4 linked regions of the Homo sapiens genome follow. The protein of the gene in region 1 interacts with the protein of each later gene in a pairwise test. Each region holds a gene or a part of one and is shown in the gene's direction. Other genes may lie near its edges.

Region 1 (3,500 bases):
ATAGACTTCTAAAAGTGCCTCTTTTTTTTCTTGTTTCTTAATAATCTTCTAAGAATATGATTGCTGCTATTCCTGTGTGTACATTGGAAGAATTTGAAACTGATACACTGTTTGTAAATTGCCATGCTCTTGATTCATACCCTGAATCACCTTTCTCCTTCTCTGAGCTGTTACCAATCAAGATTACGTTGAAAGCCCTTCCAAATTGCAGCATGGCCAAAGTGTTGACTTGTCTATCATACTAAAACAGCAGCAAACCTTACACTAATACATCCTTGAACTTGGACATTCATTCAGCAATCTTGACTGGGCTCCAACCTTGGAGTGAGTGATGATGCCTGTTACCGAAGTGGGGTACAAAGAATATGCTGACAAGCCTGCCAAATGAGAACTCAGTTGTGGTGGGAGAGAAATTTTATTCCTGTTAGATCTGTGCTGTAATACAGTTCATGTTAAGTGTTCTAGAAGCACAGAGAGAAGGGATGGCAGTGCAGGGAAAGCCTGGCAATATATTTGCTAGGTTTTTCAAAATTTTTTTGAATTGCTACATCCAGAATTTAATATTTTGTCTGCTTTTGTGTAGTTCCCATTCCAGTTATTCAATTGGCATAATTATTTGATTATAATTTAGTTTCAGGTGAGGTGGTAAAGAAGAGAATACTTGTTCGGTTTGAAAAAGCAGCTTGAGGGGAGGAAGAGCATTAGGACAAATAACTAATGCATGCGGGGCTTAAAACCTAGATGACGGATTGATAGGTGCAGCAAACCTGCACGTTCTGCACATGTATCCCAAAACTTAAAAAAAAAAAAAGCAGCTTGAATATTGTATCCTTCCCCCTCTCCTGTACTAAAGATAGTAGGGTGTAATGTTAAATGTGCTAGACTACCAGGGTTTGAATTTTGGCTTTGTCATGTTCCAGCTCTGTATCCTAGGTCAAGAAAACTCCAGGCTTCAGTTTCCTTATCTGTAATGGGGGAAAGTATTTGGATCATTGTAAGATTGAATAAGTTCGTACACATAAAATGCTTAGAATTGTTCCAAGTAATTGCTACATGCTTAATAAATTATTTTATTGTTATTAAAATTAGGTAGAATCTCATTTGCTAAACATTGGGTTGTAAAGACAATGTGTGCACATTGTTATAAAAATGTGAAGAAAAGGCAGTGCGTGATGGCTCACACCTGTAATCCCAGCATTTTGGAGGCCAAGGTGGGAGGATCACGAGGTCAGGAATTCGAGACCAGTCTGGCCAACATGGTGAAACCCCATCTCTACTAAAAATACAAAAATTAGCAGGTGCGGTGGCATGCGCCTGTAGTCCCAGCTACTCGGGAGGTCAAGGCAGGAGAATTGCTTGAACCCAGGAAGCAGAGGTTGCAGTGAGCTGAGATCACACCCCACTGCACTCCAGCCTGGGCAACAGAGCAAGACTCCGTCTCAAAAAAAAAAAAAAAAGTGAAGACAAAATAATTTTGATATAAATAGCTGTACTCAGTTCCATATTGGGTCCTATGAGAAATGTAAAAATCAAAAGATAATAGAACTTGAAATTCTTTAAAGGTCATCTAGTTTGACTTCATAATTGAAACCCAAAGAAATTATGACCGGTTCAAGGTTTCTCAGTACATAACAGAAGTGTTGCTGAGAACCATGGCCTCTGATGCTACTCAGTCCAGCGCTCTCTCAGTACCCTGTGCAGCTTCCCTGAAGTGACAGCGCCCTGGAAAACTAACAGTTTAATTGGCAGCCAAGTCCAAAACAGGTGAAAACATTAGCAATAAAAAGTCAGTATATAATGGAATATCAGATGGTGTACATAGATTAAGTCCCTACCGTATTTAACTTTGTGAGCTGCTCTCTTGAAGCGGAAATGCACCTTCTTAGTAATTTCATTCATTGAAGGTTGAAAGATGAAGAGCATTTGTTTTTGAAGAGGGTGTTAATAAAGTCAATTTCCCTCTTTCCTCCTACCAAGGTTGGATTGTTCATTAAGCCAGGGGGAGAGTCCACTTTTGCCAGGTCTGCCAGTACTCCATGGCTTTGCCCTTGATGATAGTTGGGGAAAAGTCTGGCCTCTGTATTTCTGTTCCCTGTCTTCCTGATGGGCCAGATTCCCACAGACATTCCCTCAGGTATGAAGACTGCATTACCCTTGCTCATGGGTATGCGTACATATGTGGAACAGGTGCTAGAAGTGTACCTGATTGGTGGGATTTGTCTAAGTCGAGATTTCCACTCAAGGACAGGGCTGCTACTTTTTGGGATTGAGCTAAGAGTACTTTCACACATTATCTCATTTAATTGTGCTTGAATACTCTGCTGCTAAAAATTTTACAGAATAATACATGCTCCTATAACATTCAAGCTATATAAAGATATGCTATGGAAGAGGTGAAAGCCCTGCTCTTCTACCCCTCCCTGTACCCAAATTATTCCATCCCAAGAAGTGTCATTTGTGACATTTTGTAACTTTTCCAGAACTTTCCCCTAAATATATATAGGTAGTTTGAGTTAACAAAAAATGGTGATCATACTGTTCTAATTAACCTGTAACTTCTTTTTTTGTGCTATACATGCATATGTGCTTTAATCTTTAATAATCCCAGAATAGCCTGGCTGTACCATATGTGTTGGTTTTTAACAGTTTGTCCATGATGGATATTAAGATTGTCTCTAGTTTTTTGCCATTTCAAATAATACTGCAATTCAACAATGTCCTCAATATATATTATGCTTGCTCTCTTATATGCCTAGAAGTATGATTGTTTAGTGGAAAGATTTACACATTTCAAATATTTGTATACTGTTGGAATTGCCCTTTAAAACAACAAACTACTGATCTCTGGTAAAGTGCTATTTCCCTTACATAATTGACTATCTTAAAAAACTGTAGGACATTTGTATAATTTTCTAACCAGTTTTTGCCCAACAAGACTGCTTGCTGTTTTATTTTATGCATTTTTTATCACTCATGCCATTCTACCATTGGTTTTGGTGGTTCAGAATGGTGCTGTTTATCCCCATTTCCTGTGCTTATCATCACCATAATTGCCTTTTAAAAACATAAATTTTTTTTCTTAATATGAAAAACACTTTCATTTATAGAAAATTTGGAAGACACAATAAAATAAAAGTTATATTTTTGTGCATGAAAGTACATAAAGAAAGGAATGAAAGTCCTGCCCTTGCCTTTTCCCTATTTTTTAAGTTGGTTTTTCCTTGCAATTTTTTCTGTCCTTATACCAACTTTTGTGTTTATAGAGCAGAATTTATGCCTGTACATATCTACTGATATTTGTTTTTTTTTCCTGAGGACTAAATAAGCTCATATTAGATATGGTTTTGTAACTTTTTTACATTACTTAACAAAATATCATGGAAGTCTTTCCAAGAGTAAAATAGCTAATAATAGCTAGCATTTATTGAGCACTTACCATGTACCCATGACCTTTTTTTAAGCCCTCTACATGCATAAGTTTATTTAATAAAATTATTAAA
Region 2 (3,500 bases), on another chromosome or scaffold:
CTGTAATCCCAGGTACTTGGTAGGCTGAAGCAGGAGAATCACTTGAACCTAGGAGGCAGAGGTTGCAGTGAGCCGAGATTGTGCCACTGTACCCCAGCCTGGGCAACAGAGTGAGACTCCGTTTAAAAAACAAAACAAACAAACAAACAGAAAAAAGAAATAGGATCGTGAAAGTGTGATTACCAAGGATGAGGCATGTCTTAGGTAAGAACTGTTTGGAAGTGATGACAGATTAGCTCTATTAAATAAAGAAGGAAGAACCAATGGAGAACTCTTTACAGAGCAATGTATTCTAAGCTAAACACTAGGGATTTTAAGCTTGAAAGACTAGTATAATGGAGACACTCCTAACAAAGTTAAAGACTGCAGGAAACAATTAAGCACATATTTACCGAATGTCTGTTTGGACTAGGTACTGTTTTAGGCACTGTGAATGCAACAGCGAACAAAACACAGGGGTTGCTGCTCTCATGTAGGTTCTGGTCCACTGAGACAGATAGTAAATTAAAAATCAACAAACCAGCCTGGGCAACATAGTGAGACCCCCATCTCTATAAAAAATACAAAAATTAGCCAGGCAGGTGTGTGTAGTCCTAGCTACTTGAGAGGCTAAAGTGGGAGGATTGCTTGAGCCCAGGAGATCGAGGCTGCAGTGAACCACGATCATACCACTGCACTCCAGCCTGGGCGACACAGTGAGACCCTATCTCCAAAAAAAAAAAAAAAAATCAACAAACACCTACAAGATGTAGGTGGTAATAAATTCTGTTCAAACAACAACAACAATAAAAGCAGAGAAAAGGAATAGTGAAATAAGTGGGGATTGTGCTGTTTTCTGTAGACTTGTCAGAGAAGGTTTTTCAGATAGGTGACATTTACAGGAGAAATCTGAATGAAAAGAGCAAGCCATAAGCTATCAGGGATAACAGCATTCAGGCAGAGGGTCTTAAAGTGAGAATGTACTTATCATGGTGGAGATGTGGTTGTCAAGGAGGAGATGAAATAAAATGCTTATAAGATTATATTATGTCAGAACTTGTAGGCCATTATAAGAATTTCGAATTGTATTCTGAGATGGAAAGTCATTGGAGAATTTTGAACAGAAGCGAGATATAATCTGACTTGAATTTTAAAATAGTCACTCTGGCTACTGTGAGAAAGTTCCACAATGGGGCTGGGGTAGCCATAGGAGTAAAAGGTAGAGGCAACGAAACCATTTTAGGAGCAATAATAATAAGCAATAATCCAGGCAAGAGATATTGGTGACTTGGACTAGAATAGTAGCAGTGGGAGTGGTAAAATGTGATTGGATTCTGGATATATTTTGGAGCTAGAGCTTGACAGGGTTTGTTTTTATATAGAATGTGGAATATGAGAGAAAGTAAGTTAAGGATTATGCCGAAGTATTTGGTCTGAACATCAGATAGAGTGGATTTGTCATTCATAGAGATGGTAAAGACTGGGAGAGAAGTGGGTTTGGGGTGGAAAGACAGGAATCAAAACTTAGGGTTTGGGCCAGGCACGGTGGCTCAAGCCTGCAATCCTAGCACTTTGGGAGGCCAATGTGGGCAGATCACCTGAGGTCAGGAGTTCAAGACCAGCCTGGCCAACATGATGAAAGCCTGTCTCTACTAAAAATACAAAAATTAGCTGGGTGTGGTGGCAGGCACCTATAATCCCAGCTACTCAGGAGGCTGAGGCAGGAGAATCGCTTGAACCCAGGAGTCGGAAGTTGCAGTGAACCAAGATCTTGCCACTGCACTCCAGCCTGGACGACAGAGTGAGACTCTGCCTCAAAAAAACAAAAAAAACAGGGTTTGGACATGTTAATTTTGAGATTCCTATTAGAATCCAAGCAGAAAAGTTGAGCAAACAACTAGATATAATAAACTGGAATTCAGTGGAAGGGTCTGTGCTAGAACTACAGAATTGGGGCTTTTCAGAATACGCATAGTATTTAAAGCCACGAGATAGGATGAGATCATGAAGGGAGTAATGAGCAGTAGAAACAGAGTAGCTAGGGAGGTACAAAGAATGGGATTCTTAGATGCAGACAAAAGTAATTTGGTTTTAAATGTGCTGAATTTGTATTGCCAACCAGTTCTTTCTCTGAAAGCACTGCAGGGGCATATAATGGAGTTTACAGCTTGATTTCTGAGGCCTGACCAGAGATCCCAGAATAGAAGGCACAGCTCGCAGTACTGGCCTTTTCCCCCGGCTTTCTTTTTTCAAAATATGAGATATCAAAACACCGTTTTCTATACATCTGAGATAGCATTTTGCTGACTCTCGCTTTTATTCTGAAGACTGAGGCTACAAAATGAAAATGTATCAGGGAAATAGAGGCAGTATATGGTGATTTCTTAGTTATAAAATTTAACCTTTGAAGAGAATGGGGGAGTAATTTGAGAACCTGTTGTATGCCAATCCCTGTGCAAGGTGGTTTATACAAATGTTATTTATAATCTCAGAGAGAGTAAGTAACTAGCCCAAGGTCACAGAGCTACTAGACTAAGAGAGAGAGTAAGTAATCCATGTGATTCCAAATCCCTGCTTTTTACAATACCTTGCTGAAGAAACCTGTTATTTTTAAATGCAAGAGGAAATAAGCCCATGGAAGAATGGGAGCCACCCAGTGGCTGAAATTGAATAAATGAGTTAACTGAGGGAGCAAGGGTCAGAGAGAAGCCAAAAGTGATGGGATTGAAGGCAAAAGTAGAGACGTAAGCCTTGAAAAAGAGAAGACATCATCCTAAGATAGAAGAAATGGAGAGGAGTATGAGGGTGGAGATAGATAAAATGAAGAGTAGATGATTTTTGAGATGATTGTGATCTTGGATAAATAGAAAATAAGATAATCTTCCCAGAGAGAAGTGGGACGGGCACCTCAGAAGAGCAGAGACTATTGGGAACAGCTTAGGGAATGAATATGGAAGAGATTTCTCTCCTTCCCTTCTTTTCCCTTTCTTTCTCCTCATTTGTTCCCTTCAACCTTTTTTTTTTTTTTTTTTGGAGCTACAGTGTCTCTGTCACCCAGGCTGGAGTTCAGTAGTGTAATCATAGTTCACTATAACCTTGAACTGGGCTCAAGCAGTCCTCCTGCCTTAGTCCCCTGAGTAGTTAGGACTACAGATGTGCACCACCATGCCCAGATCATTTTTAATTTTTTTGGAGAGATGGGGTCTTGCTATATTGCCTAGGCTGGTCTCAAACTCCTGGCCTCAAGCAATCCTCCCACCATGGCATCCCAAGGGTGCCTTTTTTTTTTTTTTTTTATCATTTCTCTACATTATTTACCTTTACATATCCCCTTTCCTTTTCCTCTTTCTCTCTTAATGTTTTATTTTACCCTAAGTTCTATCTTATTTCCTCCTTTCTGCCTCTTTTCACCTTTTTCTTCTCTCCTTTGTTTTGTCTTTCTCCCTTTCCTTTCTCCACTTCTTTAAGCATAAGATAAAGAGGTAACAGTGGCACAACCAACATACTTTAGCGGTAACAAC
Region 3 (3,500 bases), on another chromosome or scaffold:
ATTGCGTTATTTCCCATTAAATGATGGTTCCTCTGACTATCTGATTGGCATTGACTATGTTTGTTGTAGAGATTGCATACATCTAGTTTAACTCTGGCTGTCAAATGAGAGCAGTTACTCTTATCAGGATGGGTGTCAGGTTTGATGTCCCCTCCTTTTCCTGCTTCAGGTTAATTTGTCATGTTCTGTTTTAAACTGAGACATATAGCTTGACCTCCTTTATTTAGGCCATTAACTGCTCTGGGGTAGTTTTCCTGAAGGTTAAAAAGCCTAGCTTCATGATGGAGGTTAACCAACATGACCATGATGGCCAGGTGTATAAATCTGGCCTCTTAAAAATCTGTATTTGAGGCTGGGTGCAGTGGCTCACACCTGTAATCCTAACACTTTGGGAGGCCAAAGCTGGCAGATCACTTGAGCCCAGGTATTTGAGACCAGCCTGGGCAACATGGCAAGACCCCTTCTCTATAAAAAATTTAAACATTAGCTGGGCATGGTGGCATGTGCTGTAGTCCCAGATACTTAGGAGGCTGGGGTGGGAGGATGGCCTGAACCTGGGAGGCAGAGATTGCAGTGAGTTGTGATCTTGCCACTGCACTCCAGTCTTAGCAACAGAGTAAACCCTATCTCAAAACTTAAAAATCTGTGTTTGGCCCCTAGCCGTCCTCAGCTCTTGAGTAAATCTCAGCATCCTAGGCTGTTACATTATGGCCCAAATATTCAATAGAGATGCTGTATATCCTTGTTCCTCTCAAAACCCCTCCTCATCACCATCAAAAAGCTGGTTCAGTTCTCTACCTTTAGATAAAGAATCATCCCAAGACTCAACATGAGCTGCCGTGACTTGTCCAAGATGACACCTCTTTACAATGTAGAGCAGTGGACAGAACACAGGTCACCCTCCGCCGAAGGCAACTATCTACTGTCTAACATTGCCTCCTAGGCCTGCCATATATAACCATCAAAAACAGTTTAGAATAAAGTGAATTGTTACAATTTTTATTTTTCATTTTTGTGTTTACATTTACTCTCAATGACATGTTTATTCCCACCTAATATCTTGAGGCTAACCACAAAATCTGCAGCATTTCCAGACAGAAGATACTTGTGACTTCCCTGTACTATCCACTACATACTTGACCTCTTTCTCTTTCTTCCTGTCTTCCCTTTCTCTATACCTTATTGTCTTTCTTTGGAACCTCTTGTAACAAATTTTGAGCCATTTCTCCCCTCACTACTCAAATATCACTTTTATGAAGGGGCGGGGGGGAAACTTAGGTGGCAAAAATATTTTACAGAAACAGTTTTAAACATGTTTTGAAGCATACTGGTCACGTGTTAGAAGGCCAAAAGCCAGGGAATTCATTCCCTTTCATTCATTGTGCTGTCTAGGTTAAGTTTTCACAGGACTTCTTGGTACACTGAGTTTGCCTCAGATTGTCTCCTGCCAGTTACAGGGAGTGGAGAGGACTTTGATATATTGGTAATTAGAAGCATTGCTGATATGGTCTTCGGTGGGAGAACCTGTGTCTAAGGTTCCTTCTCATCTGTATTCCAACACTTTCATTTAATCCTACTTCATAAGTGCCTCCAAAGCAAGGATTTTTTTTTTGGTTTAGCATGGTTTCTTTGATATAACAATAGACCGACCAAGATTTTCCTTATGCCATCTGTTTTTTTGTAATTATGATGCAATAGAGAACTGTTTGCTTGTTTATCATTTAAATCTTGCCTTCTTCCCAAAACGATTTCAAATAGCTTGAAGGAAAATGAATAAAATATATTGAGCACCTACCCTATGCCAGACTCTATACTGAAGGGTTTCTATAGGTTATTTCATTTACTCCTTAAAACAACCACATGAGATAAGTAGTATTAGCCACATTTTTGAGGATAAGACTGAGGCTTAGGGAAATTGTGTTACAAGGCTAATAAGCGAGGTCAGGGATTCGAGGTCAGGGATTCAAACCCAGCGTGCCAAGGCCACTAACCATTATGTGGAAAGCTTAGGTAAGCGCTTGTATATAGGACAATCAAGAATAAAAGAATATGTCCATTAGAAGGATTGTACTGGGCTAATCTTTCGTTTTAAAGAACAGCAGCAGCATTGGAAAAGAGCGGTTAACAGTTTTTATTAGCCAATTTCTATTCTAGAACACTGAGAGGAGCTGTTGACAGGCCCTGGTTAGCCCCAGCAAGTAGTTGTATTAAAATTACCAAACTATAGGCCTGCATTAAGGTATAAAATAAGAATGGGGACTGGAAGGGATATAAATATCTGCTAAATATAATAATTTCAGTTCTAATCACTATTTTCTTCTGAAGATTATTTGCCAGTACATAGGCAGATCACTGTCTCTCCTTTAGGTTGATGGTATATGACTACAGACTTTGTCATTTAGGGTCCAGAAAGATCACCCTAGCTAGTAGCGTTTTAAGGTAGAGAACTAGATATTGTTTCATTGCCTGTGGTTTTCTGTTCTTGTAAGAGAATTGAGCTTGGGTCTTCACTGCCACGTGACACCTTCAGATAAGGGGCAGAGACAGCTGGCCTGAGGATTGTACAGAGGTCTTACCTTGATAGCTCCTCTCCAATCCTATGCATCCTAGGAACACTCAAGACACTAGGTTGTATCTTTGCAGATACTGTTTTAGTGTCTTCTGGAACCAAGTCTCTTACTTAATCCTGGCCTGGTTTCATATTCTCTCTATTGTATTCTCTCTATAGTTTTTGTCTTACTCTGGAACTCTTCCAAGGACAGACATTGAAGAAAGGTATTAGAATAGCAAAGGCAACAAATTGCAAGGTATACTTATGGCATAGCACATCCCATTAATTATAGAATAAAAACACAACATCTGTTTTCTGCCTCTAATATTAAATCTTGACATTTGCACAACACATTTTAGTTCATAAAGCTCTCATATCTCAGATAATCACTGAGTTAGGAGACTGGTTATCTGCAGAGGGCTTTATCCTTTACAAGGGCTCTTGGGTACGTTACTTCACGAAACCCTCAGGGAAGCTCCAGTTTCTTGGGGATCTGGGGCCGGGGCATATGTCTTTGGATACCCAGTTTGGTGCTGTGCACAGCACTGCTGTACCTCCTATTCATTTCCCATCTCTTACCCCACAAAGACTCCTTCCTTCATTCCTTCTATTGCTGATCTGTTTTCCTTCATCTTCCTAGGCTGCCAAAGTAAATGCAAAACAAGCACCAGAAATCTCAGCTTGTGATTTCTGAAGGGCATTTTTAAATGGCAAGTTTGGTGTGGCACTGTTACATGTTCTTTTTTCTTTGGAGAGCAAAGCCCTTTGAGAGAGCAGGAACTCTTCTGTCAATGCATACGTTGTAGGATCCATACTGTGGAATCTCTTGTACCTAGTGCTGCGTGAAAACAATGAGGATTCCAAGTCTACTTCACTGGACGTCGGTTCTCAAACTTTTAAGATACTAGAAGTCCTTTTATTAAGCCAAAAGACCCTATGTATTAATTCT
Region 4 (2,174 bases), on another chromosome or scaffold:
TTAGCCAGGATGGTCTTGATCTCCTGACCTCGTGATCCGCCCGCCTCGGCCTCTCAAAGTGCTGGGATTACAGGCGTGAGCCATCATGCCCGGCCACTACAGGGTTCATTTTAGCCTTCCCACTTAGTATTATTTTTGAGACAGGTTCTCTGTCTCCCAGGCTGGAGTGCGGTGGCTCTGTCACAGCTCACTGCAGTCTCGACTTCCCAGGCTCAAGCGATCCTCCTACCTCAGTTTCTGAATAGCTGAGACCATAAGTGTATGCCACCATGCCCAGCAAATTTTTTTTTTATTTGTAGAGACAGGGTCTCCCTATGTTGCCCTGGCTGGTCTCGAACTCCTGGGTTCAAGCGATTCTCCTGCTTTGGCTTCCCAAAGTGCTGGGATTACAGACACTAGCCACTGCACCCGGCCTTCCCCCCCCCCCCCCGCTTTTTTTTTTTTTTTTTTGAGACGGAGTCTTGCTCTGTTGCCCAGGCTGAGTGCAGTGGTGCGATCTCGGCTCACTGCAAGCTCCGCCTCCCGGGTTCATGCCATTCTCCTGCCTCAGCCTCCCGAGTAGCTGGAACTACAGGTGCCTGCCACCATGCCTGGCTAATTTTTTGTATTTTTAGTAGAGACGGGGTTTCACCATGTTAGCCAGGATGGTCTCGATCTCCTGACCTCGTGATCTGTCCACCTCGGCCCCCCAAAGTGTTGGGATTACAGGCGTGAGCCACTGTGCCCGCCGCACTTTTTTTTCTGAATAGGAAAAAGGGTTAAAAACAAAAGAAGAAAATAGGGCTAGGTGTGGTAGCTCACGCCTGTAATCTCAGCACTTTGTGGCCAAGGCAGGAGGACTGCTTGAGTCCAGGAGTGTGAGATCAGACTAGGCAATATAGTGAGACCCCGTTTTTATCAAAAATAAAAAAATTAGCCAGACATGGTACCAGGCACCTGTGGTCCCAGCTACTCAGGAGGCAGAGGTAGGATTGCTTGAGCCCAGGAGGTTGACATTGCAGCGAGCCAAGATAATGATCATGCCCCCTGTACTCTAGCCTGGGCAGCGGACTGAGACCCTTCCTCAAAAAACCAACCAAAGAAAGAAAAAACTTGTTTCTGATCCTAAGAGTACTGAGAGAGTGAAGTCCTTTATTGACCTTCAGATCCTTACATATAAAACAACTATATTCCACATGTAAGTGCTAATTTCCACCACAGTCAAAACATTATGCTTTGGCAGTTACTTTAACTGGTAAAGATGACTTTTGTAAAAAGTTAAACACTGTCCTTTTTCAAACTTTGTAGATTTATATATAGCTCTTTCCTTCTATGGTGGCAAAACATTGTTCAAAACCTTCAGAACTTTAAATTTACCAGGGAATTAAAAAGGGGAGAAAAATGTCTCAGATAAGAAACATATCGAAGCAAACAGGATTTTATTTGCTCTTATTTTACTGTTTTTTTTTTTTTCTTTAATTATTGCACAACTATCTTTTTGGTTTTTTTGAGATAGGGTCTTGTTCTGTTGCCGCCCAGGCTGGAGTCCAGTGGCGTAATCGTGGTTCACTGCAGCCTTGAACTCCTGGGCTCAAGCGATCCTCCCACCTTAGCCTTTTAAATAGCTGGGACTACAGGTGCAAACCACCATGCCTGGCTAATTTTTTCTATTTTTCTAGAGCTAGGGTTTCTCCATGCTGCCCAGACTGGTACAACTCTCTTAATAATAGAAAACTTTCATCTTCAGGCCTAATTAATTATAACATTTATCCCTTTTCCATTTCCTTCATGTCCTTGACCACACTGATCCCTTACTCTGTGCTTTGTGTTTTTTGTGTGTGTGTGTGTTTTTTTTTTTTTTGAGACTGAGAGAGACTCAGTCGCCCAGGCTGGAGTGCAGTGGCGCGATCTTGGCTCACTGCAACCTCCGCCTCCCAGGTTCAAGCGATTCTCCTGCCTCAGCCTCCCAAGTAGCTGGGACTATAGGTGCGCGCTACCACGCCCAGCTAATTTTTTTGTATTTTTAGTAGAGATGGGGTTTCACCATGTTGGCCAGGATGGTCTCGATCTCTTGACCTCATGATCCGCCCGCCTGGGCCTCCCAAATGCTGGAATTACAGGTGTGAGCCACCACGCCTGGCCTAATTTTTGTATTTTTAGTAGAGACAGGGTTTCACCATATTAGCCATGCTGGT

The links. The genes of interacting proteins can lie anywhere in the genome.
Region 2: the proteins of SSX2IP (region 1) and ZSCAN12 interact in binary tests that used the Homo sapiens proteins (3 or more experiments, as listed by UniProt).
Region 3: the proteins of SSX2IP (region 1) and ZNF202 interact in binary tests that used the Homo sapiens proteins (3 or more experiments, as listed by UniProt).
Region 4: the proteins of SSX2IP (region 1) and DRG1 interact in binary tests that used the Homo sapiens proteins (3 or more experiments, as listed by UniProt).

The regions. Positions count from the first base shown.
Region 1 is NC_000001.11:84,680,462-84,683,961, reverse strand, and holds part of SSX2IP (afadin- and alpha-actinin-binding protein), read left to right. Parts: intron 1-1,494; exon of another isoform or gene 1,495-1,764; intron 1,765-1,977; exon of another isoform or gene 1,978-2,134; intron 2,135-3,500. UniProt on the Homo sapiens protein: Belongs to an adhesion system, which plays a role in the organization of homotypic, interneuronal and heterotypic cell-cell adherens junctions (AJs).
Region 2 is NC_000006.12:28,393,248-28,396,747, reverse strand, and holds part of ZSCAN12 (zinc finger and SCAN domain-containing protein 12), read left to right. Parts: intron 1-3,500. UniProt on the Homo sapiens protein: May be involved in transcriptional regulation.
Region 3 is NC_000011.10:123,735,161-123,738,660, reverse strand, and holds part of ZNF202 (zinc finger protein 202), read left to right. Parts: intron 1-3,500. UniProt on the Homo sapiens protein: Transcriptional repressor that binds to elements found predominantly in genes that participate in lipid metabolism.
Region 4 is NC_000022.11:31,430,604-31,432,777, forward strand, and holds part of DRG1 (developmentally-regulated GTP-binding protein 1), read left to right. Parts: intron 1-2,174. UniProt on the Homo sapiens protein: Catalyzes the conversion of GTP to GDP through hydrolysis of the gamma-phosphate bond in GTP. Appears to have an intrinsic GTPase activity that is stimulated by ZC3H15/DFRP1 binding likely by increasing the affinity for the potassium ions.